Regions from separate parts of the Homo sapiens genome. Here region 2 is linked to region 1. The links come from fine-mapping of genetic effects on gene expression. Tissue or cell type: whole blood. Region 1 holds a variant in brackets; the other region holds the start of a gene. All regions are shown on one strand. Distances are between the middles of the regions.

The links.
Region 2: it holds the start of SGO1-AS1, and the variant in region 1 is fine-mapped to the expression of SGO1-AS1 in whole blood (TOPMed, PIP 0.99).

The regions. Positions count from the first base shown.
Region 1 is chr3:20,164,473-20,166,972 of GRCh38, forward strand. It overlaps a transcript of SGO1 not described here. Among named protein-coding and RNA genes, the nearest start is that of SGO1-AS1, 8.6 kb to the right of the region's middle. The variant C/T (reference allele first, on the strand shown) is at 1,305.
Region 2 is chr3:20,172,863-20,175,362 of GRCh38, forward strand. It overlaps SGO1-AS1 (SGO1 antisense RNA 1), which reads left to right and starts at 1,424. Exons shown (of 4, transcript NR_132785.1): 1 at 1,424-1,663; 2 at 1,873-1,956. It overlaps SGO1 (shugoshin 1), which reads right to left. Exons shown (of 8, transcript NM_001199251.3): 6 at 1,387-2,193.

The sequences.
Region 1 (2,500 bases):
AATATCACAGTAATGCCCTAGGACCAAATGCTTCCTCCCAAAGTCGAGAAAAAGGCAAAGATAACTGCTCTTCTCACCCCTATTCAACATTATGGAGGAAGTTCTAGTCAGTGCAGTAAAGCAAGAAAAGACATGCAAAATAGAAAGACAGAAGTAAATTGTCTTTACGTGCAGACTTTAATTAAGATCATATACAAAAAAAAATCCTAATGGAACTGCAAAACATGGTAGTAGAACTAGTGAATGAATTTAGCAAGGTCTAGATATGAAAATCAATTGTATTCCATAAACTAGCAGCAAAATAACAGAAAATTAAAAATAATACATTTATAATAAGTCAAGAATATGAAATGCTAAGGGACAAACTAACAAAATATGAAGAAAAATTAGAATGACTAGACTTCTCAACAACAAAATCAAGCCTGTAAGAAAATTAGTAACTCTTAACCTATACCTCAGGAATGAGGGCAAAATTGAATTCATTTTAAGGAAAACACAGAATTTGACCCTTATCAAAATGACATAAAGAAAAAGCAGAGTAGTTTCTTAGTTCATTTGTGTTGCTATAAAGGAATACCCGAAGCTGGATAATTTATAAAGAAAAAATGTTTATTTGGCTTACAATTCTGGTGGCTGGAAGACTGGGCATGAGGTGAAAGCCTCAGGCTGCTTCCACTCATGGTAGAAGGCAAAGGGGAGCTGGCATGTGCAGAGATCACACGGCAAGAAAGGAAGCAAGAGAGAAGTGGCACTAGGCTCTTTTAAACAACCAGCTGTCTTGGGAACTAAATGAGTGAGAGCTTACTTATCCCCTCCTCCCAGTGAGGGCATTAATTCATTCATGAGGGACCTGTTCCCATGACCCAAACACCTGCTATTAGATCCCCCAGCAACACTGGGGATCAGATTTCAACATGGGATTTGGAGGAACCAAATTGTAGCAGATATAAAGCAAAAAAAATCAATAAAAGCAAAATTATAGCAGTTATCACAATACATGTACACTTAACAATTCCCAAGGGAGAAAAATTAAACAGATTCAAGAAGAATTAGAGAACATGTAAGACTTATAATTATTAAAAAACTAGTACAAAATTTCCCCATGAAAACATAGAAAGATAAGATGGTTTTGGTGTCAAGTTCACCAAACCCTCAACAGGTGCAATTTGTTTCCACAGAGCAAAAAAAGAAAACATTGCTAGTATAGCCTTGATACCGAAAATAGGTGTATACAAGAAATTATATAGGCAAATTTTACTCATGATCATAGATACAAAAAATCCTAAACAAAATTGTTGGCCAGG[C/T]GCAGTGGCTCACGCCTGTAATCCCAGCACTTTGGGAGGCCAAGGCAGGCGAATCACTTGATGTTAGGAGTTTGAGACCAGCCTGGCCAACATGGTGAAACCCCGACTCTACTAATAATACAAAAAATAGCTGGGCATGGTGGGCACACACCTGTAATCCCAGCTACTTGGGAGGCTGAGACAGGAGAATCGCTGGAACCCAGGAGGTGGAGGTTGCAGTGAGCCAAGATTGTACCACTGCACTCCAGCCTGGCTGACAGAGCGAGACTCCATCTCAAACAAAAAAAAAGTTAGCAAACAAATCCTACCTATGTATTAAAAAAATTATGACTTAGAAGACAACAGAAGAGAAAATAGACAAATTGGATTCAATAAAATTTCAGAACTATTGTACATCAAAGGACACTATCAACAGAGTAAAAAGGCAACCAACAGAATGGGGGAGGACATTTGGAAATCACATATCTGATAAGGGACTAATATCTAATATATATAAAAACTAAAACACAACAACAAAAAACAACCTATTGGATTTGAATAGACATTTCTTCAAAGATATACAAACTTAAATGTTCATTGATGGATAAAGAAAATATGTATACATACAATGAGATGTTACTCAACCTTAAAAAGGAATAAAATTTTGATACATGCTATAACATGGATGAACCTTGCGATTATTATGCTAACTAAGCCAGACACAAAGGACAAATATCCTATGATTCCATTTCTGTGAGGTACCTGGAACAGTCAAATTCATAGAGATAGAAAGTAAAAGTAGTGGTTACCAGAGGTTGGGAGAGAGGGGAGAAGAGAGAGTGATTGTTCAATGGGTATAGAGTTTTAGTTTGGGAAGAAGAAGTAGTTCTGGAAAAGGGTAGTGATGGTTGCACAATCATGTGAATGTACTTAATGCTACTGAACTTTACAAATAAAATGATCAAAATGGTCAGGTGTGGTGGCTCATGCCTGTAATCCTAGCACTTTGGGAGGTAAGATTGGACGATTGCTTGAGGCCAGGAGTTTAAGACTGGCCTAGGAAACATAGCCAGTCCCCATCTCTACCAAAAAAAAAAAAAAAAAAAAAAAAAAAAAAATTAGCCAGGTGCAGTGGTGCAAGCTTGTAGTCCTAGGTAAAGGGGATCCTTTGAACCCAGGAGTTTGAGGCTACAGTGAGTTATGATTGGCCACTGCAC
Region 2 (2,500 bases), 8.4 kb after region 1:
GGCTGAGGTGGAAGAATCACTTGAGCCTGGGAGGTTGAGACTGCAGTGAGCCATGACAGTGCCACTGCCCTCCAGCCGAGGTGATAGAGCAAGACCCTGTCTCAATTAAAAAGTGAACAACAACAAAAAAATCCCAACTTTTTCTGGACATTTTTAAATGTACACAAAGATGGCAATAACAGTATAATAAACTCTGAGTTACCCAGGTCCAATAATTATCAACACTTTGACAATCATGTTTGATTTATTCTAACATCATTATAGCATTTTTGCTTTTTTTTTTTTTGAGACTGAGTTTCGCTCTTGTTGCCTAGGCTGGAGCGCAATGGCATGGTCTCGGCTCACTGCAACCTCTGTTTCCTGGGTACAAGCAATTCTTTTTCTCCTGCCTCAGCCTCCCGAGTAGCTGGGATTACCGGCACATACCACCAGGCCTGGCTCATTTTTTTGTATTTTTAGTAGAGATGGGGTTTCACCATGTTGGCCAGGCTGGTCTTGGACTCCTGACCTCAGGTGATCCGCCCACCTCAGCCTCCCAAAGTGCTGGGATTACAGGCGTGAGCCAACCCGCCCGGCTTACAGCATATTTTTAAAAAAGATACTTGCCTGCTACCACTGACTAACTGGCCGATTTAGAAAGTTGGTTTGGTTTTTAAGGTTTTAATCTCCTTACAAACAAAATAAGCATCATAACACCTATACTTCACAGAATTGTTCTGAGGATCAAATAAAATGATGTGACAATATTTTGAAAATGATACAACTTGACTATAAATGTTAGTTTTACTTGTATTAACTAAAATTGCCAAATGAGAATCTTTGTGGACAGGTGTAGGTTGTATTACGAACATTTGAACTATGCCTACTTTTGATCTAATAAAATATTTTCTGAGCCAGTTTTTAGAGATGTCGTACAAAAGAATACTAAGCCTATCAATTGAGGAAATCTTCACTAACTAGAAGATTATTTTAAATCACGGTTCCTGTCAAATTTAATATAAAACAAGGCCATTAAAATAACAAGTCACTGGATTCAAATTTGATTTCACTTTCAAGGGGATACTTCAGTTAAGTGTATAAAAGCTACTTCAATTCAACCTAAGTCTACAAAAAAGTCCCTCTGTCCCCTTGGGAGTCCTAATTTACTGAAAATAAAAATTCTGTCTCCATAACAAGCAATCTCTGAATTAGGTCAGAGCAATACAACTGTGATTTCCACACCCAGCCCCCCACTGTTTAATCAGACCATAACTTCCACCAAAGAGAGACAGATGGTAAGTCTCCAACCTCCACCAGAGAAACAGATGGTAAGTATAGTATATAAGCATCAGGAGTGATCATTTATCACGAACATTAAAAATACAGGTAAACAAGTAGATCACTTACTGGTAGGAGTTTTTGTTGGCTTAGAACCCTCCGTCTCTTTTTCATCTGTGTATTTCAGTGCTCTTTTAGCTAGAGGCCTGGTGACTGGTCTATCTGAATTGCTCGTGGGATTCTGAATGTACTTGCAAGTGGGCAAATAGAGGTCATCGGAATCATCTCCTGAACCACTTGATTCACAGAGGCTCACTTCAGACTCGTTGTTTTCTTCTCTATTAGAGTCATTGCTCACTTTTTGTCGGAAAGGAGTAAGATGAACACCCTCTTCCAAATTAAAATTGTAAGCATCATTGGAACTGACAGATTTGTGCATTTTTTTTTGGGGAACAGTTTTTTTATTTTCGCTTTTATTCTCTTTATATTTTGACATACGTTTTGATTTTCTCCTGTTAGCTTTTCTTTTCTCTTCTCTTTTTCTTTCTTGTGTATCTCTTTGCTTACTTTTAGTTTGTTCAGATTTAGATTCTAAAATGTCTTCTTTTGTTTTAGTAAACGTTCCTGGCTGAATCAGCTTTGGTGATAAGTTAACTTGGTCCTTGCTCCATTGACAAGCATTGTGTTGTACATTTTCAGGTATGTGCATGTTTACTAGTGGGTCTAAAAATCCAACTCTTTCGAATTCAAAAGACTTCCCTGCCAAATGACTGGTTTCAAAATCATCCAAGCTATCAAACTGACATATACTGTTACAATGTTTCTTTAAACTGCTACGAACAGATACAGTTCTAGGTAAGACATTATCAGTAGACTTAGCTTCACCTGAATCAAAATCAACTCCCAGTGTGTCTTGAGGAATAGTAGGTATCTGATCTGAGAATTTAAAAAATAAATGAGAAAAGTAGTTTTACTTTGTGGAAATTTGAATTTCAAGAACTTTAGAATTCAAACTAAAAAAGTGAATGACCAAAAGGTCATTCTGTAGTTTTCCTACATTATAAAATCTGTAAATAAAAACCTGGGAACTTAAATATTACCATCTATTTACTTGTCAGTGATCAACTGATGGCTTATATCTGACATGTGAAAGAATCTTGTACAGGTTCAGTATCCCTAATCTGAAAATCTGAAATCCAAAACTTTTTTAGTGCAGTCATGATGCTCCAAGGAAATGCTAACT